Homo sapiens: one gene and its partners. The protein of the gene in region 1 interacts with the protein of each later gene in a biochemical or structural test. Each region holds a gene or a part of one and is shown in the gene's direction. Other genes may lie near its edges.

Region 1 (8,609 bases):
CTGCTTACTGGAACCTCTCCTCATCTCAAGTGATCCTCTCTCCTCAGCCTCCCGAGTAGCTGGAACTACAGGTGCATGCCACCATGCCCAGCTAACTATTTATTTTTTATAGAGGGAGGTCTTGCTATGTTGCCCAGGCTTGTCTCAAACTCCTGGGCTCAAGCTATCTGTCCACCTCAGCCTCCCAAAGTGCTGGGATTGCAGGAATGAGTCACCATGCCCGGCCTGTAGATTTTTCAAATAGCGCAAAAGTAAATAACATTGATTAGTGATTGCATGTGAATATATGTGAAACATATTATATTGAAGGAATTTATACGCCTTTGCACAAATATTCAAAGCAGCAGTCTAAATTCTCCTTTGTCATTCTCCTTACTTTTCAAGTGAAATTGCTCTTGGTTCTATATCTCTTTATTATTTCCAGAAGTTGAACTGATGATAAATGCTTTCTTAAACCCAAATCTCTCTTTGGATGATAATGCAAGCTACGATATTTTGTGTAAAAATTTCTGACATCTATCTTTGGAACTCTTTAAAAAAGTTAGATGTATCAAACATATTCCAATATAGTTTCTGAAGATCTAGTTTACAGAAATTTCCCAGATGATTTTGGTATTCTTCCACTCCACTCGAGTTAAGAACAGCTGCCCTGGGACTGTAGATGAATGTGGCATCCTTTCAGGAATATTTGCATTGTAAAGAGGATCACAGGATGGGCACAGTGCCTCATGCAGGGGATTAATTGTGGAGGGAGAAATTTGAGGCACCAGGGGCTGAGTCTTGGATGAGGGTGAAGGAAAAGAGCCCGTATACCATCTTTCAGCAGTAGTGATGTCATGAATGAAGGATCAACTTCAGGGGCTTGGAGTTTATCAAAATGCCTCACCAGTTTGCCTAATGCCTAAAATATCACAAAGCTAATTTCTGTTGGGCTTAGTTTCTCCTAATGGATATGAATGGGTTAGTGTTTTTTTTTTTTTTTTTTTTGAGATGGAGTCTCGCTCGGTTGTCTAGGCTGGAGTGCAGTGGTGCGATCTCCGCTCACTGCAACCTCCCCCTACCGGGTTCAAGCAATTCTCTGCCTCAGGCTCCCAAGTAGCTGGGATTACAGGCACCTGCCACCACACCTGGCTAATTTTTGTATTTTTAGTAGAGACGGGGTTTCGCCATCTTGGCCAGGCTGGTCCTGAACTCCTGACCTCGTGATCCACCTGCCTTGGCCTCCCAAAGTGCTGGATTACAGGCGTGAGCCACCGAGCCCTGCCTAACTTTTTCAAGTAACACAACCACATTCCAACATGTTTTCTGAGAATCCAATGCCTTAACCCAATAAATTAGTCTAGTGGGAATTTCAGCACTGTTGCAGGCTAACAGGGATCATATTTTTGTCTTGACTAGCCTTTGGGACATACCTTGAATTATGCTGAACCGGTAATGTTTGTCTAGGTAGGGCCCAGTCTTATCATTTACTAATTAGCTGCCCAGTGTGCTCTACTATGTATAATATGATAAACATTTCACCATATTTTGGAAACCATGCTGTAGTGCAGCAAGGCTGTACTCAAAATGCAGTAGGGGCCATAGGGGTATATTTAGGACTGTCCAGGTTAATTGTGTGCATTCCTGATGTCTTTCAACTTGCTAACCTCTTTAACCTCAAATTTGGACTCTATTAAAAAAAGCCCAGGTAACTCAAATATGAGTGATGTGGCAGACTGAATAATGGTCCCCTTACAATATCCATGTCGTAATCCCCAAACCTTTGAATATGTTATGTTACATGGCAAAGGGGAATAAAGGTCACTAATCAATGGACCTTAAATTAGAGATTATCCAAGTGGGCCCAATATAATCACAAGAGTATTAAAAGTGGATGAGGGAGTCAGAGGAAGAGCTGCGGTGACAAAAGCAGGTCAGAGAGACGCCATGGAGCTGGCTTTGCGGATGGAGGAAGGAGGATATGAACCAAGGGATCTGGGCAGCCTCTGGAAGAAGGAAATAGTAAGAAAAGGGATTCTCCTTTGGAGCCTCCAGAAAGACACACAGCCCTGACAACACCTTGATTTTAGCCCAGCGAGATACCTGTCAAACTTCTGCACTCCAGTAAGACAATAAGTTTGTGCTCTTTTAAGCCACCAACTTTGTGATGATTTGTTATAGTGACAAAGTAAAATTAGTAGAGGTGGGAACTACATTTGTGGTTATTCATAATCAAAGACAATTCTCCTAACCATTTCTGTATAAAACCAGCATTTGGACATAATTCCCACATAATTTCTCTTTCTTGGTGTAGAAAGCATTCACAACTGAGTTTTGAATGGTTCACACTCTTAAACTGTCTTAAACAATGTTGTGTTATGTTGCTCCTAATGAATTGCAACTTGGCTATTTTTAAAAATCCCAAACACAGAAGATTATTTTTGTTCAAATATCAACTTTAGATTTTAGTTTTCCCAAACAATATTGTTTTAAATGAAGGTTTATATTACTGATTTCTGTAAAGCCACTTGCAGTCATATAAAAGTATGCCCTTTTGTTAGAAACTATGCCTCATTAAAGCTTTAGGGTTTTTCCTCTGTCTGTCCTAATGGTAATTGCCCCATTGACCCTTACAATGTAGCTATTTTGAAGGCTATCTCCTTTCTGCCCACTCTTTTCTTGGGCTTAATCCTGTGGTGTTAGCAGCCTAACGTGGGCAATATGTATTCCGGGCCTCATTGAAATTCAAGGCATCATTTTATAAGAGAGAGGGTTAATGGTGAAACTGGCAAAACTGCTCACAAAGTTGACGTGACACCTTCAGCCCTTTCAGGACTCACTGCCATATACAAGATGTAGAGTGACATTCTTAAACAATTCATACATCCAACAAAATATTTACTGAGGCTTCCAGGTGTCAAATAATGGGGATAAGAGCACTGAATAATTTATACAAAAACTCTTAGCCGGGCATGGTGGCTCACGCCTGTAATCCTAGCACTTTGGGAGGCTGAGGCAGGCAGATCACGAGGTCAGGAGATCGAGACCATCCTGGCCAACATGGTGAAACTCTGTCTCTACTAAGAATTACAAAAAATTAGCTGAGAGTGGTGGTGTGTGCCTGTAGTCCCAGCTGCTTGGGAGGCTGAGGCAGGGGAATTGCGTGAACTCAAGAGGGAGGTTGCAGCGAGCCAAGATCGCGCCACTGCACTCCAGCTTGGCGACAGATCAAGACTCCATCTCAAAAAAAAAAAAAAAAAAAAGAAAGAAAAAAGAAAAAAAAATTCTTGCTTTCATCCTGGCTTTCTTCTGAAACTTTCTGGCTTCCTGGCTTTGGAGGTTTGGGAATTGAAGAAAATAAAGTAAAAAACATAATAAAAACAACCAAAGAGGAAAGGTTTTTCTAGATCTAGACATCCTACTCTCCCATACAAGATTTATGTTGATGGAACAACGATGTAAAATAAGAAAATTCCTGAGATAATTTTAAAAAGAGGGCAGAAAAAACTCATAGTAGACTTCATCGAGGAATGTATAAAATGGGTAGAACCTGGAGTATTCAGTGGCAAAATCTTGGACACAGGAATACAGTAACACAACATATTGGTCTAGCAAGCACTGGAGGAGACTGAGGCGGAATTGTCCAGCGAATCCCACAAAAATGGAAATGAAGAGGTCTCAGTATCTCTAGGTGCCCGGGTCCGATGGAATACCGATGTACATACCTTTTCTAACACAGTAGCATTAGTTTATATATCAGCATTACCTCTCTTTTGTTTCAGTTGATAAGTATCCTACTGTAATCCATTCATTCACACTTTGCTTGTTCATTGTTGAAACAAATTCTCCCTGGAACAAAATTCTAGTAACCAAATACATCATATCAGGGGAAACTTCCTTACAGCAGGGATGGTATTAAAGTAAAAAGAGGAGGAAGTCCCTTCTTCAGCTCTGGCAGGGACCCGGCTGGGGAGGAAACCTTCCCGCAAGGTAGGTGATCTGCTGTGGTGACCAGGCTAAACCCACTCTACAGCTGCAGGAGGGACTGGCATCCCTTAGAGGTGAAGAGGGGAGGAGACCCACCTCCTGGAATGTGTCCCTGTGGTCTCCAGATGATTTCTTCCTCTAATAAGGACAATTCTGCCAAAGGAATGGAATGCTTCGTCACAGGCTCAATTACTCTGTCTCCGCCAGCCTACCACCTATAAACAATTCCTCAAATTAGGAAAGCGGGGAGATTTAATAAAGACATAACACGTAAAGTGTAGGAAAACTATTTGTATGGCATTCCGAGACGACTAGGTCAGAGTTAACAAGTAAGGAGCAAAGTAGTTAATAATACCAATTCTGTTTACCCATCACAACACCTGTGCTGAATGTCAGGGTTTAAAAAAATCTCCCAACCTTTATCTAAAAAGATAGGGCTACGTAACAATCGGTGTGGTTTTTGTCGGTAGAGGTCTAGGAAGCCGCAAGAGTAGTGGACGCCTTGACAGCTGCCCTTCTCGCGGGCCCCGCGGCGGCGTGCCCGTGTGGTTGCGTGCGCGCGGACGGGGCGGGGCTGAGGAGGGACGTGCGCGCGCGCGGACGGGGCGGGGTGGAGCTCGGAGGGCGGACGCGCTCGGGGCCGTCTGGTCGGCAGGGGGCGCTGCGCACCCATGCCGCGCTCTGCCTGCCCCCGGGTGCTGTCCGCGGCGGTTCGATTGGAGCAGCCGCCGAAGAGCGCTTGGCGCCATTTTGAAGCGGAGAGGAGGAGGAACGGCAGGGCTGGCTGCGGAAGGGGAGGGGGGGGGAGAAGGCGATTGGATGCGGCGGCGGCGGCGGATCCCGGAGAGCCCCGGAGTGAGCGGAGTAGCGAGTCGGCAACCCGGAGGTAGGAAACAATTCAGTTAACGGAAAGAAAATGTCTCTCTTCTCTGGCTGCGGCGCTCCATTTTTCAGCGGCCGCCACTGCCGCTGTGTGCGTGTGTGTGGCAGGGCTGAAGCGCCGCCCGCCTGGGTGCCAGGCGCGACTCGCCTCCCGGCATCGGGGGCTGCAGCGGGTGGCTGCCTGGCGGTGGCCCGGGGCGGGGGTCGCGGGGCGCGGGCCGGCTGCGCGGTGGGGGTGGGGAGGGCCCCGCGGCCGGCGCGCGCCTCCACGCCGCGGGTTCTGCCGCAGCCTCTGGAAAATTAAACTTGCCGCTCTGATCCCGGCCGGGGCGGCGGCGGCGGCGGGCGGTGACCTTGCGCGCGGGCGGGGGTCTCGGGGCCGCCCGGCCGCCCGCGCCCTCCCGCCGCCGCCGTCGCCGCCGCCGCGCCCCTCCCCCCGCGCCCCGGCCGGCCGGCGGCTGTTTCCCGGGCGGCAGGCGGGCGGCGCGGTGCTCCTGTTGAATCCTCCCGCGGGCGGGCTTCTCCCCCTTCCGGGCGAGGGGCGGGCGGGGACCGCGGGTCGGGGCCGCGGGCGCTCTCGCCCCCGCCGCCGGGTCCCCGCGCGCCGCCTGGCCTCCGCTTCGGGCCAGGGGACGGGCTGAGCGTGACATTTTTGCACTGTCCCTCGCCGCTCGCCGGAGGGAAATCGCGCTCACCGCGCCACCCCGAGTGGTCCCCGAGCAGCCAGTTGAGGAAGAGCCCAGCACTGGCGTGGAGGGACTCCTCCCAGGCCACAACTGGGTTCTAGCTTTCCTTTCAGAAGGAACGGCGGGGAAAATGGTGTGCAATTGTGACTCGTTATTGTTTTTACACTGTTATTTTAATGTTACTTTAAAAGTTTTCGGTCCGGAGAAAAACCTTGTTTGTTGTTGTTGCTGCTACTGCTGTTGGTTTTTGGTAGAGACGTGAAAGCTAACTCTTAAGTAGCTCGACAGTTATTTTGGACGAATGACTGAAACCAGAAACGCCGCCCCTCGCCTTCGGAGCTGCAGGCTGCTGCGTTCCTTGCCGCGGACGGGGCGAGCTCCGGGAAGGGTTGGTAGAGCAGCTACCCACCCACTCCACGCGCGTCTTCAACAGCCTCTCTCCCCCAGCGAGGGTTAACCCTTTTTTATGTCGAAGAAAGTGCTTCTCGTACTTTTAATAAGAGGTGATGGATGGGCAGTGGTGCCCAGACTGATCCTACCCTGTTGATGAAATAGTTTCGAAAACTTTGGGTATAGCCTTAATTTAGAGGGTTGGTCTGCGGTGTGGAGAGAGTTGGGTAATCCTATACTATCTTCCTAATGAACTTCAAAAACTCAAGTTGTGTTTACATACAGGAGGCGAGCTGTAAATAAATCGTAATTACCCAATGCTTGAACGGCAGTATAGTCATTGTTCTCAGTTAACACATCCCGAGTTCCCAGACAGAACGTTTTTTATATTAACTCATGTAGTGGTCAGGTAAAGTAATTAAAAGCCACAAATATGGACTTGAAAGACAGCTCTTCATGCAGTACACATGTCTGAGATGTTCGCATCTTTAGGGACAATAAAATGAGTATTCAATGGTGTATGCAGGTCAGTTCGTGCAACAATTAATCTTGTATCTCATGGTGATAGCAGAAAACCTAATTAAAATTTGTAGTGCTGAATATGTAGGTGAAAATTACATGGGAACTTTTATGTGAAGATAGATTTAGTCTCAGAAACTTAACTGTAAAAACACATCTTAAGAACATTATTCCTTATAAATAAAATTTGTACTTAATATACATTTACAAATATGTCTAACAAGATGCACTTTAGACTTTATAAAAATTACCAAAATAGTGACTTTTTCCTCCTTTTTCTGATGGTTTTAAAAATTGTTCTCTTCTCAGCTGGCGTTTACTTAAAGGTATATTTTAAATGGGAAGGTAGTGTTTGTCTTGGCCTTTTTTCTTTTTTTCTTTTCTCCTTGTTTCGGTTAAGGCTGATTTTCCCTATATTAACTTTTCTTTTACAGCAGCTTTTGTTACTCTTGTAGGCTTTGTTCTCTCGTGTTATGTCTCTCCCCTCTCCCCATATTAGAGAGAGATGTGGTGATGATAGTGATTGTTGTTAGGAGATGTTTGTATTAAGCTTATTTGTAATAAGATTCTACCGAGTTGGCTGTTGGATGAAAGTTGTTTAAATTGTTCTGCAGCTTTGTTTAACGAAGTAACATTTTGAGCAGTAGGCTTTATCAATAATTTGTTAGGCCTAAGATAAAGTGATACTCTGTATTAGGCAGGGCTTGCCCTGGAGAGGGGTGCAATGGTAGAAAATACCCAAAACTTTGTGGGGAAGGAATATTTCGGGAAGCTGTATTCTTTCTGCTTTACCTCTTGGGAAATTTAGAGACTGCCTTAGAACTAACAGGAGTGCTCAGTATGATTTGGCATACGGACTCTTGAATGACATGGACTGTATATAACGTATATTGGAAAAGAATACATTTGTGTTTCCTCTGTTAGTGTTAAAGAGCAACAAGAAAACTTAAGGATGATCTCCAACTCACTTATACATGAGAAATTAGGTTCAGATTTTAATTTCATTGATTTATCTGAGGTCACAGTCATATTCATGTGGTGGAACTGGGGCAGCCCTTAAGATATCCTGGAAGCTTAGAAGTTTCCCCATTGTCTTTTTTTGTTCTATTCAGGATTTAGCAATATTTATTAATAAAAATTCAGGGTAGTACATTACCCTCCATCCCCTTCTCACCTTTTTATTCATTTAACCAAGAATAAAGTTTTGTGGTTAGCCGTCTGTTTCAGCGTCTGGTTTTTAATAATTTCTGTTTAGGATTCAGTCCATTTAGGTTGTCTCAGAAGATAGCCTCTTGTAGGTCTCTGTCTCCGGGAGCCGTCTTTCTTTATGTAACATTACTTGACATGGCATTTATTTATTCTTTGTGAAACTTCTAAGAGTAATTTGGGAAAGTTAGTATTGACCTTTGTTTTGTTACAAGATATAGTGCGTGCATGAGTATGCGTGTATTTTTTCATTTTTAAACTCAGTTTGCTACACAAGTCATCTGTCACTTCTAGTTACAATAGGCGTTTTACTTGGTTTTCGTATTCCTGTTCGGGAATGTTAAAGATTCCAAAAATACTTAGTTTAAAAACAAGCCCAGTAGTTTCTCTGAGAGTGTATTTACTTTTTAAGAAGCTGCCAAATGGTTCGCAATTCTGACTCCTTGGAGAGTAGAGGTAAGAAGCCCTTTCCTCACACTGTTCTGTTACAACCACTTGATTCTAACCATTTCCCCCATTACTTGAAAAAGGTTTTAGAATCCTTTCTCATTAATTAGTTCAGAATTAAGAATAAATTTGCTGTGTTGAGACTGTAATTGTTTTAGCTGGCATGAGTGATCGTGCACAGTGAAAAAATCATGATAATAAAACTTAGATGAATAAAATTTATTTGTTCAAATCTTAAAGCCTTTGAGGTTTAAAAAGTATAATCATTGTGTTCTAATAATTAGACATTAATAATAAGTAGTAATTAAAAATACTTGGTTTAGCTATGTAAAACATAAAAGCTAACAGGCTTGGGGGAAAGACTGATTAAAGTAAGAAACTATTTTGAGGCATCTTTTTAAGGACTAAAAGTATTCCACTAGCCTGCCATTCTCTTTTTTGACGGATAATTACCTGATTCAATTAAAATGAACAGGTACAAAACTTCCATATACATACAGTACCAGGGATGAT
Region 2 (7,453 bases), on another chromosome or scaffold:
TATCAAGAAAAAAATTTTATAATTGAATTATATTTCTGAGAATGTCACAAGGCCTCCTTAAGCTAATAAAAATAGCCCTCTTTCATTCACAACAAAAGAGCCCTTACTGATTAATTTTTGCCGTGCCCTGTTGAAGAATATTAGCCCACATGCATGTTACTGTAGCTCTGGGGTTCCCAGAACATGGTCCCCAGAACAGCAGCATTATCATTACTTGAGAACTTGTTAGAAATGCAAATTGTCTGATGGGACTTCAGATCTACTGAATCAGAAACAATCAGATACTCGGGCTAGCAACCTGTTTTAACAAGCTCTCCAGGGCCAGACACGGTGGCTCACGCCTGTAATCCCAACACTTTGGGAGGCCAAGGGAGTGGATCACCTAAGGTCAGGAGTTTGAGACCAGCGTGGCAACATGGTGAAACCCTGCTCTACTAAAAATACAAAAACTAGCTGGGCATGTTAGCGGGCACCTGTAATCCCAGCTACTCGGGAGGCTGAGGCAGGAGAATCACTTGAACCCAGGAGGCGGAGGTTGCAGTGAGCCAGGATCGTGCCACTGTACTCCAGACTGGGCGACAGAGTGAGACTCCATCTCAAAAAAACAAAACAACAAAAAAAAATGCAAGCTCTCCAGGTAATCTGATGCTTGCTAAAGTTTGAAAACCATGACCACAATTGCTAGCCTTTCTTGAAAGTCTGAAGTACTGTGAAAGAATGACAGAACTCCTTTGAGATGAGCTTAGTTTTTCAAACTTATATGTTAAGAATAACCTGAGGTATTTGTTAAATATACAGATTACCAGGCTCTTCCCTGATAATTGTAATTCATTGAGTCTAGGTTAGGCCCAGGAATTTTTTTTTTTTTTTTTTGAGACGGAGTTTCACTCTTGTCTCCCAGGCTGCCAGGCTGGAGTACAGTGGCGTGATATTGGCTCACTGCAACCTCCGCCTCTCGGGTTCAAGCGATTCTCCTGCCTCAGCCTCCCAAGTACCTGGGATTACATGCGTGCACCACCACACCCATCTAATTTTTGTATTTTTTAAGTAGAGATGGGTTTTCGCCTTGTTGGCAAGGCTAGTCTCGAACTCCTGACCTCAAGTGATCCGCCTGCCTTGGCCTCCCAAGGTGCTGAGATTACAGGCATGAGTCACCACAGCCTGCCCAGGAATTTGTTTTCTAACGGGTGTTCCAGGTTATTATCTTTAAGGAAGTTCAAGAAACACTATGAAAGAGGATGCTATGGCCGGGCGCGGTGGCTCATGCCTGTAATCCCAGCACTTTGGGAGGCCGAGGCGGGTGGATCACAAGGTCAGGAGATCGAGACCATCCTGGCTAACATGGTGAAACCCCGTCTCTACTAAAAATAAAAAAATTAGCCAGGCGTGGTAGCGGGTGCCTGTAGTCCCAGCTACTCGGGAGGCTGAGGCAGGAGAATGGCGTGAACCTGGGAGGCGGAACTTGCAATGAGCCGAGATCGTGCCACTGCACTCCAGCCTGGGCGACAGAGTGAGACTCCGTCTCAAAAAAAAAAAAAAAAGAGGATGGTATTTCCAGCCAACTTGTCCCAAGCTGTGGGAATTCCATGTCCTGCTTCTGGAGCCTAAGCACAGAGGTTCCCATAGTTTTTTTTGTGAGTGCCGCTGAGAGAAAAGCTAGGATAACTCTTTATTCTGGTAAACCTTCTCTGTTTTTATAGCAAATAGATAATCTCCCTTTCTTTTTTAATTTTTAATTTTTTTTTAATTTTATAAATAGAGATGGGGTTTTGCCATGTTGCCCAGGCTGGTCTCAAACTCCTGAGCTCAAGCAATCCTCCCCACTCAGCCTCCCAGAGTGCTGGGATTACAAGCATGAGCCACCGTGCCCAGCCTTTTCTCCCTTTCTGATAGTAGATTATATCAGTGTATTTTTTTGTTCGTTTGTTTGTTTGTTTTTGAGACAGAGTCTTGCTCTGTCACCCAGGATGGAGTGCAGTGGTGCGATCTCGGCTCACTGCAACCTCTGCCTCCCGGTTTCAAGCGATTCTCCTGCCTCAGCCTCCCAAGTAGCTGAGAAGCAGGGATTACAGGCGCCTGCAACCAACCCGGCTACATTTTGTATTTTTAGTAGAGATGGTGTTTCACCATGTAGTCTAGGCTGGTCTCAAACTCCTGATCTCAAGTGATCTGCCCACATCAGCCTCCCAAATTGCTGGGATTACAGGTGTGAGCCACTGCGCCCAGCCATATCAGTGTTTCTTGAGGCAGAACTAGAAGACTTGTGCAGTAAAGTACTTACACCTGTTACATCTTTTTTTTTTCACCATACATTCATGATCTAAATAGAGAAAACTTATATCTCTTCATTCTTGTTTTATTTGGTCAGGATCGTAAGGTGTAACTCTATCCTAATGCCATCTGTTTATCCTCATGACAGAATCGTGAACCTAGAACATAATCATAGCACACTGGGTTTTATGTAAACATTCTCTTTTTTTTTTTTTTTTTGAGATGGAATCTCACTCTGTCACCCAGTCTGGTGTGCAATGGTATGATCTCGACTCACTGCAACTTCTGTCTCCCGGGTTCAAGCGATTCTTCTGCCTCAGCCTCCCAAGTAGCTGGGATTACAGGTGCCTGCCACCACGCCCGGCTAATTTTTGTATTTTTAGTAGAGATGGGGTTTTGCCATGTTGACCAGGCTGGTCTCCGACTCCTGACATCAGGTGATCCACCTGCCTCGGCATCCCAAAGTGCTAGGATTACAGGCGTGAGCCACCGCACCTGGCCCTCAAAGAATAGGTTTGATTTAGGTCAGGCGTGGTGGCTCACGCCTGTAGTCCCAGTATTTTGGGAGGCCAAGGTGGGCGGATTATGAGATCAGGAGGTCAAGACCAGCCTGATCAATATGGTGAAACCCTGTCTCTACTAAAAATAAAAATATTAGCTATGCATGGTGCTGCATAGCTCCATGCTACTTTGGAGGCTGAGGCAGGAGAATCGCGTGAACCCAGGAGGTGGAGGTTGCAATGAGATCACGCCGCTGCACTCCAGCCTGGGTGACAGAGCAAGACTCCGTCTCAAAGAAAAAAAAAAAAGAATGGATTTGATTTATCCCAAAGACTTGCCAGGTAGAGCTCCAGAGTAGTTGGGTGCTATCATCTCTCTGCTTATAGTTTGCCTGAACTTCTTAATAGAAAGGGAAATACATTCTTTGGTCCTGAAACTACTGTCAGTACCACTTCTTCCCTACCTATTCAGGTAATTTAAGTGTCAGAAACAAATTGCTCATCTGCCTGAGTTCTGTGTGCAGCCTAAAAATGTTCTCTCCTCTCTCATAGGTATGGTCTCTCTGGCAGTGATGTCCTGGATAATGTAGCATATGCTCGAGCGTTCAACACAGACCACCAGACCCAGCTCCTTTATCAAGCATCAGCCATGATGGTAGAATCTAGGTATGTGTTCAGTATAAGACACCAAATATGTTCTTAAGAGTCCTTCCCTGAATCTTGTAATGGCTATTTGGCCAGATTGATAGTAGTTTGAATTAGAAATGAGGAGGTTTAAGTATAATTCCTGTGTTGACACTCTTGCTTTGTAGTTTAGGTCAAGTCACTATTAAAAATGAAACCATAATCTACTTGAACTTGCTGGAAATCTTGTTAAACGGTGCCTCAGATGTTAGTACTGTGCAAATATTTTAATAAAACATCTATATACAGGCCGGGCGCGGTGGCTCAAGCCTGTAATCCCAGCACTTTGGGAGGCCAAGGCGGGTGGATCACAAGGTCAGGAGATCGAGAACATCCTGGCTAACACGGTGAATCCGTCTCTACTAAAAAAATACAAAAAAATTAGCTGGGTGTGGTGGCGGGCGCCTGTAGTCCCAGCTACTCCGGAGGCTGAAGCAGGAGAATGGAGTGAACCCGGGAGGCAGAGCTTGCAGTGAGCCAAGAATGCCCCACTGCACTCCAGCCTGGGCGACAGAGCTAGACTCCATCTCAAAAAAAAAAAAAAAAAAAAAAAAATCTGTATACAGGAAAAACTATGAATATGAGATTTTAGGGTGGTAAGGAAGGGACCAGAATCTGACACAGGCTAGAAATAGGCTTCAGAGAATCCTTGTTTCCTGTAGGTATGCACTGCTTATTGTAGACAGTGCCACCGCCCTTTACAGAACAGACTACTCGGGTCGAGGTGAGCTTTCAGCCAGGCAGATGCACTTGGCCAGGTTTCTGCGGATGCTTCTGCGACTCGCTGATGAGGTAAGTTGTGGGATAGGGACAGAGAATGCCTACTTTCAGTGGCTGTGAATTCCAGGAGCCTTGCTAGGAGGCTAAGACATCAGTGCCTGAGATCATCAAGCTCTTAGGAAGAAGAGAGACATTAGTTATTCGTTATTTTGTGGGGGAAAGTGGTGGCAGCATTAAGGCTTTTGGAGTGTCTATGGCCACAAAATTGACATTTATCCTTTCCCCATCAGTTTGGTGTAGCAGTGGTAATCACTAATCAGGTGGTAGCTCAAGTGGATGGAGCAGCGATGTTTGCTGCTGATCCCAAAAAACCTATTGGAGGAAATATCATCGCCCATGCATCAACAACCAGGTAAGGTGTTGATGGGATCAGTTCTTCTTTTCGGAATGTCATATTAACTGTGAAGACATGAAGATATAACATTTTCATTTAAGCCCTGTTAAAGCTACTGTTGTATAGACACTTAGGAACTCTTGCTAATCTAATTAACATGCTCTCGTTGGTATAGATGTTTTAGTTCATAAAAGAATTAAAAACCCACAAGTGTGGAAGAATGAATATGAGTAATTGATATGCCTCTCCCCTGTTATTTAAAAAATGTTTGGGCTGGGCACAGTGGCTCACACTGGTAATCCCAACACTTTGGGAGGCCAAGGTGATAGGATGGTTTGAGGCCAGGAATTCGACACTAGTAAGGGCAACAAAGTGAGGCCTCTGTCTCTACAAAAAAAAGTAGCTGGTGTGGTGGCGTGTGCCTGTAGTCTTAGCTACCCAGGAGACTGAGGCAGGAGGATCAGTTGAGCATAGGAATTCGAGGCTGTATTGAGCTATGATCACACATCACTGCACTCCAGCCTGGCAAAAGAGCAGGACACTGTCTTGAAAAAATTTTTTTTCTTTTTTTTTTTTTTTTTTTGAGATGGAGTCTCGCTGTGTCACCCAGGCTGGAGTGCAGTGGCACGATCTCGGCTCACTGCAAGCTCCGCCTCCCGGGTTCACACCATTCTCCTGCCTCAGCCTCCCGAATAGCTGGGACTACAGGCACCCGCCACCACACCTGGCTAATTTTTTTGTATTTTTAGTAGAGATGGGGTTTCACAGTGTTAGCCAGGATGGTCTCGATCTCCTGACCTCGTGATCTGCCCAACTCAGCCTCCCAAAGTGCTGGGATTACAGGCGTGAGCCACCATGCCCGGCCTAAATTTTTCTTTTTTTAATGTTTGTTTCAATATGGACAATCCACTGAGAGGGGCCAGGGCAAAAATGGATTCTGCCAGGTTGGAAATGCACTAAGGAAAACAGTACAGAAACATTCCCAGGGTCCTTCTAGGAAGAATATATGTCTAAAAAATTTTCAGCTCTGTTACAAAGTCAGGAACGGAATTGTTTAATTATAATAAATTGGTGCTTTGGTCTGTGTCTTTGGGTCAGATTGTATCTGAGGAAAGGAAGAGGGGAAACCAGAATCTGCAAAATCTACGACTCTCCCTGTCTTCCTGAAGCTGAAGCTATGTTCGCCATTAATGCAGATGGAGTGGGAGATGCCAAAGACTGAATCATTGGGTTTTTCCTCTGTTAAAAACCTTAAGTGCTGCAGCCTAATGAGAGTGCACTGCTCCCTGGGGTTCTCTACAGGCCTCTTCCTGTTGTGACTGCCAGGATAAAGCTTCCGGGAAAACAGCTATTATATCAGCTTTTCTGATGGTATAAACAGGAGACAGGTCAGTAGTCACAAACTGATCTAAAATGTTTATTCCTTCTGTAGTGTATTAATCTCTGTGTGTTTTCTTTGGTTTTGGAGGAGGGGTATGAAGTATCTTTGACATGGTGCCTTAGGAATGACTTGGGTTTAACAAGCTGTCTACTGGACAATCTTATGTTTCCAAGAGAACTAAAGCTGGAGAGACCTGACCCTTCTCTCACTTCTAAATTAATGGTAAAATAAAATGCCTCAGCTATGTAGCAAAGGGAATGGGTCTGCACAGATTCTTTTTTTCTGTCAGTAAAACTCTCAAGCAGGTTTTTAAGTTGTCTGTCTGAATGATCTTGTGTAAGGTTTTGGTTATGGAGTCTTGTGCCAAACCTACTAGGCCATTAGCCCTTCACCATCTACCTGCTTGGTCTTTCATTGCTAAGACTAACTCAAGATAATCCTAGAGTCTTAAAGCATTTCAGGCCAGTGTGGTGTCTTGCGCCTGTACTCCCAGCACTTTGGGAGGCCGAGGCAGGTGGATCGCTTGAGCCCAGGAGTTTTAAGTCCAGCTTGGCCAAGGTGGTGAAATCCCATCTCTACAAAAAATGCAGAACTTAATCTGGACACACTGTTACACGTGCCTGTAGTCCCAGCTACTCGATAGCCTGAGGTGGGAGAATCACTTAAGCCTGGAAGGTGGAAGTTGCAGTGAGTCGAGATTGCACTGCTGCATTCCAGCCAGGGTGACAGAGTGAGACCATGTTTCAAACAAGAAACATTTCAGAGGGTAAGTAAACAGATTTGATTGTGAGGCTTCTAATAAAGTAGTTATTAGTAGTGAATGTGCTGTTTATAGCAATTATTGCAGTGCAAGCTATTTCAAGACAGGGTTTCCATAATCTTTTTGGCACTGTATAGGGGTGATCAGTTTCTGTTGCTTCAAGATTTGAAACCAGAAAGGAAAGTCCCACTTGCAGATGATTGTGCTTAAAAGCTAATGGAAAAATAAAAGAAAGACATACCATGGGTTGCCTTGTGGCCCCCCTTTCCTTTTTTTTTTTTTTTTGTTTTTGAGATGGAGTTTCATTCTTGTTGCCCAGGCTGGAGTGCAATGGCGTGATCTCGGCTCACCACAACCTCCACCTCCTGGGTTCAAGCAATTCTCCAGCCTCAGCCTCCCAAGTAGCTGAGACAACAGGCGCCCGCCACCACGCCCTGCTGATTTTTGTATTTTTAATCGAGATGGGGTTTCACCATGTTGGCCAGACTGGTCTCGAACGCCTGATCTCAGTGATCTGCCGGCCTTGGCCTCCCAAAGTGTTGGGATTACAGGCACGAACCACCACACATAGCTCTACAATGCTTTGTTTTAAAAGCCGTTCTAGTCTTTTTTGAGACCGTCTCTCACTCTGTTGCCCAGGCTGGAGTGCAGTAGCACAACTCACTACAACCTTCACCTCCCAGGTTCAAGCAATTCTCCTGCCTCAGACTCCCGAGTAGCTGGGATTACAGGCACGTGCCACC
Region 3 (4,874 bases), on another chromosome or scaffold:
TTGATGTTTTCTCTAATTTTTTTTATAGAGATGAGGGTTCACTATGTTGCCCAGGCCGGTCTTGAACTCCTGGGCTCAAGTGATCCTCCCACCTTGGCCTCCTAAAGTGTTGGGATTACAGGCATGAGCCACTGTGCCTGGTCCTTATCAGTTCTTATAGTGTATTTTCTTGCATGTTTGATGTCTTTCTCTCCCCCCTCTAAGAACACAGGCACCTTGAGGGTAGGGACTTCTGCCTTTCCTAGTAGCCACTCATTCTTGTTGATTGACTGAGATTCATGGTACATCGAGCAGGATAAAGTTGCCAGGACCTGGGTGACTGCTTGGCTATAGAGAATGAGGAAGTCGTAGTCAGCAGTGACCACCAATTTGTTCAGCTTCCCTGTGTTTTTTTTTTTTGAGATGGAGTCTCGCACTGTCACCCAGGCTGGAGTGCAGTGGCGCAATCTCGGCTCACTGCAACCTCCGCCTCCCAGGTTCAACCGATTCTCCTGCCTCAGCCTCCCAAGTAGCTGGGCTTACAGGCACCTGCTACCACACCTGGCTAATTTTTTTTGTATTTTCAGTAGAGATGGGGTTTCACTATGTTGGCCAGGCTGGTCTCAAACTCCTGACCTCAGGTGATCCACCCACCTCAGCCTCCCAAAGTGCTGGGATTATAGGTGTGAACCACCATATCTGGCCACCCATTATCTCTTGAACTTCATCTTCAGTTTCTTCCTCTTGCCTTCACTTCAGCCACACTGGCCTCCTTGTTGTTTGACCCTGACTAGTACACTGTGGCCTCAGGGTTGTTGCACCTTCTGTTCCCACTGCCTAGAACTTGGCCATGAGTCACTCCCACACCTCCTTCAAGTTGTAGCTTGAATGTCACCTCAGTGAGGGATGTATTGACCTTTATCTTTTTGCAATTCTAACCTGCCCCAAGCACTCTCTCCTGTTCTGTTTTCCTGTAGTGCTTGATACTGCTAACATAATACTGAATTTTCTTACCTGTTTTTCTCTTAGAATGGGGCAGGGGTTTTCTCTGTTTTATTCCCTGCTGTGTTCCCAGTGCCTGGCACAGGACAGGTGACTGATAAATACTTATGGACTGAGTGGACATTTAGGACAATCCTCATCAGCTGTGTGGCAGATGGACCACAGCAGGCAAGGGTGGAAACAGGGAGAGAAATCAGAAGGTCGCTGGGACCAGCCTGGGCAACAAAGGGAGACCTCCCCTACTCTACAAAGAAACTAAAAAAAAATCAGCCAGACAGAGTGTCACATGCCTGTAGTCCCGGCTACTCAGAGGCTGAGGTAGGAGGATTGCGTGAGCCCTGGAGGCTGAGGCTTCAGTGAGCCATGATCGTGCCACTGCACTCCAGCCTGGGCAACAGAGTTGAGACCGTTTATCTGGAAACAAAACAAAAAACGTTGCTGAGCTGGTCTAGAAGACACCTAATGAGGGCTTGAGTTGGTCAGAGGAGAGGCTGGATGCTGGGCACATTTTGGAAACAAGCGACAGCACCAGCAGATGGGGGCAAGTCCATTTGTGTCACAAAAGCAGACTCCTTGGAAGCAATGGTGGGTTGTTTTCTTCTCTCCATGTCTCTTTCAGGGTCTGATTTGTCCCTTCCTTAAAAAAAGTGTGTGTTGGCCGGGCATGGTGGCTCACGCCTGTAATCCCAGCACTTTGGGAGGCCGAGGCGGGCGGATCACGAGGTCAGGAAATCGAGACCCTCCTGGCTAACACGGTGAAACCCCGTCTCTACTAAAAATACAAAAAATTAGCCGGGCGAGGTGGCGGGCGCCTGTAGTCCCAGCTACTCGGAAGGCTGAGGCAGGAGAATGGCGTGAACCCGGGAGGCGGAGCTTGCAGTGAGCCGAGATCATGCCACTGCACTCCAGCCTGGGCGAGAGAGCAAGACTCCGTCTCAAAAAAAAAAAAAAAAAGTGTGTGTCCTGTGGGTCTTTCCACCCTGAATCTTCTCGGGCTTTTCTGGAAGTAAGCAGTCCAGCTAAGTATTGAGGGCATCCCCTCTTCTGTCCTGGTGCAGATTTCCTTTTTCTTGGAGAAAGAAAACGAGCCCCCTGGCAGGGAGCTTACTAAGGAGGACCTTTTCAAGACACACAGCGTCCCTGCCACCCCCACCAGCACTCCTGTGCCGAACCCTGAGGCCGAGTCCAGCTCCAAGGAAGGAGAGCTGGACGCCAGAGACTTGGAAATGTCTAAGAAAGTCAGGCGTTCCTACAGCCGGCTGGAGACCCTGGGCTCTGCCTCTACCTCCACCCCAGGCCGCCGGTCCTGCTTTGGCTTCGAGGGGCTGCTGGGGGCAGAAGACTTGTCCGGAGTCTCGCCAGTGGTGTGCTCCAAACTCACCGAGGTCCCCAGGGTTTGTGCAAAGCCCTGGGCCCCAGACATGACTCTCCCTGGAATCTCCCCACCACCCGAGAAACAGAAACGTAAGAAGAAGAAAATGCCAGAGATCTTGGTGAGTGAGAGGCAGGGGTTTTTCTCTGCCGTGTGCTCTGGGAGACGTGCAGGGCTGGGGCTCTGGCTCTTTTGGGGGATAGGCAGCACCTGCAGGGTGTGGGTGAGATGCTCCAGCCACCATGTTCCCTTCTCACTCACCTGCTCCTCATTTCTCTTCCCTCAGAAAACGGAGCTGGATGAGTGGGCTGCGGCCATGAATGCCGAGTTTGAAGCTGCTGAGCAGTTTGATCTCCTGGTTGAATGAGATGCAGTGGGGGGTGCACCTGGCCAGACTCTCCCTCCTGTCCTGTACATAGCCACCTCCCTGTGGAGAGGACACTTAGGGTCCCCTCCCCTGGTCTTGTTACCTGTGTGTGTGCTGGTGCTGCGCATGAGGACTGTCTGCCTTTGAGGGCTTGGGCAGCAGCGGCAGCCATCTTGGTTTTAGGAAATGGGGCCGCCTGGCCCAGCCACTCACTGGTGTCCTGTCTCTTGTCGTCCTGTCCTTCCTATCTCCCCAAAGTACCATAGCCAGTTTCCAGATGGGCCACAGACTGGGGAGGAGAATCAGTGGCCCAGCCAGAAGTTAAAGGGCTGAGGGTTGAGGTGAGAGGCACCTCTGCTCTTGTTGGGAGGGGTGGCTGCTTGGAAATAGGCCCAGGGGCTCTGCCAGCCTCGGCCTCTCCCTCCTGAGTTGCCTTCTGTTGGTGGCTTTCTTCTTGAACCCACCTGTGTAAAGAGGTTTTCAGTTCCGTGGGTTTCCCCTTTGATTCTGTAAATAGTCCCAGAGAGAATTCGTGGGCTGAGGGCAATTCTGTCTTGGAGGAAGAAGCTGGACATTCAGCCTGTGGAGTCTGAGTTTTGAAGGATGTAGGGAGCCTTAGTTGGGTCTCAGACCATAAGTGTGTACTACACAGAAGCTGTGTTTTCTAGTTCTGGTCTGCTGTTGAGATGTTTGGTAAATGCCAGGTTGATAGGGCGCTGGCTGCTTGGAGCAAAGGGTGCATTTCAGGGTGTGGCCACCAGGTGCTGTGAGTTTCTGTGGCTCATGGCCTCTGGGCTGGTCCCTTGCACAGGGCCCACGCTGGAGTCTTACCACTCTGCTGCAGGGGTGGAAGGTGGCCCCTCTTGTCACCCATACCCATTTCTTACAAAATAAGTTACACCGAGTCTACTTGGCCCTAGAAGAGAAAGTTGAAGAGTCCCAGACCTACTAGCATTTTGCAACTATGCTTGTAAAGTCCTCGGAAAGTTTCCTCGCGTACCAGACAGCGGCGGGGGCTGATAGCAATTTTAGTTTTTGGCCTCCCTATCCTCTCACATGAGAACACTGCCTGGATGCATCTCATGATCTCTGGAGAATTTCCCCATCTTTCTCTTCTTTCCATCGTGTGGATTCAATAGTGTGGATTTGAAGGCTGCCCTGCCCCCGACTCTCCTGCCGCACCCCTGGCCATTGTACCTTTTGATGTTTAGAAGTTCGTGGAAGTAGACGCTGAGGTGTGCAGAGGAGCTGGTGGATAACAGAGAATGCCAGGGAAGATGAGTGCTGGGTCAGGGTACTTGGATGAAACGGTGCAGGCCAGGCGGGCCCTAATAAAACCCTCTGCCAGGTCTGGGAGTCCCAGGCCATCTGCTCAACGCTCTGTGGTTTGTCAGACCTGCAAGCAAGCCCCCTGCTGGGGAAGCCTAGGTGTCCTTGAGCTGAACCGCACTGAAGAACTCTTGTCCTCACTGGCTGATGCAGCAGAACTCTTGGGAAATGTCTTAGTCCTGCAGAATCAGGAGTCACCAGATGATGCAGAGTTGAGATCATCATTGCAAAGTTCTCTGTTCCTGAGGAACTAAATTTAAGGAAAAAATGGGATTTTGTTTTAGAGTTGGAAAAAAAGCCTGATTAAAGAGTTTCTGCCTGTTCATGGACTGTGTTTCTTTTATTGAGTCAAAGGCAGAGCCGAAGGTAAGGCCAGGCCTCCAGTGGGCTGCATCACTGGGGTTGTCCCTTTGTCCAGGCGCTCCCAGCCCCGCTTCCCCGCATTCGCCCCATGGTAGATCACTGTGCCCCACACACTTTTTTTTTTCTTTGAGACAGAGTCTAGCTCTGTCTCCCAGGCTGGAGTCCAGTGGCGTGATCTCAGTTGACTGCAACCTCTGCCTCCCAGGTTCAAGCGATTCTCCTGCCTCAGCCTCCCAAGTAGCTGGGGTTACAGGTGCCCACCACCACGCCTGGCTAATTTTTATATTTTTATTAGAGATGAGGTTTCACCATGTTGGCCAGGCTGGTCTTGAACTCTGACCTCAAGTGATCTGCCCTCCTCGGCCTCCCAAAGTGTTGGGATTACAGGCGTGAGCCACTGCGCCTGGCCTGTCCTGCCCCGTGTCTTGTTTATTTCTGTCCAGTCCCCAGTCTGCTCCTCTT

What was found. Proteins that work in one complex are often made in the same cells at the same time.
Region 2: the proteins of PDS5B (region 1) and RAD51 form a complex in vitro, tested with the Homo sapiens proteins (one study listed by BioGRID).
Region 3: the proteins of PDS5B (region 1) and CDCA5 form a complex in vitro, tested with the Homo sapiens proteins (one study listed by BioGRID).

What each region holds. Positions count from the first base shown.
Region 1 is NC_000013.11:32,581,742-32,590,350, forward strand, and holds the start of PDS5B (sister chromatid cohesion protein PDS5 homolog B), read left to right. Parts: upstream 1-4,710; 5' UTR 4,711-4,852; intron 4,853-5,527; exon of another isoform or gene 5,528-5,667; intron 5,668-8,609. UniProt on the Homo sapiens protein: Regulator of sister chromatid cohesion in mitosis which may stabilize cohesin complex association with chromatin. May couple sister chromatid cohesion during mitosis to DNA replication.
Region 2 is NC_000015.10:40,725,388-40,732,840, forward strand, and holds the end of RAD51 (DNA repair protein RAD51 homolog 1), read left to right. Parts: intron 1-3,323; coding exon 3,324-3,437; intron 3,438-4,117; coding exon 4,118-4,247; intron 4,248-4,465; coding exon 4,466-4,587; intron 4,588-5,667; coding exon 5,668-5,791; 3' UTR 5,792-6,953; downstream 6,954-7,453.
Region 3 is NC_000011.10:65,076,953-65,081,826, reverse strand, and holds the end of CDCA5 (sororin), read left to right. Parts: intron 1-2,039; coding exon 2,040-2,474; intron 2,475-2,639; coding exon 2,640-2,720; 3' UTR 2,721-4,374; downstream 4,375-4,874. UniProt on the Homo sapiens protein: Regulator of sister chromatid cohesion in mitosis stabilizing cohesin complex association with chromatin. May antagonize the action of WAPL which stimulates cohesin dissociation from chromatin.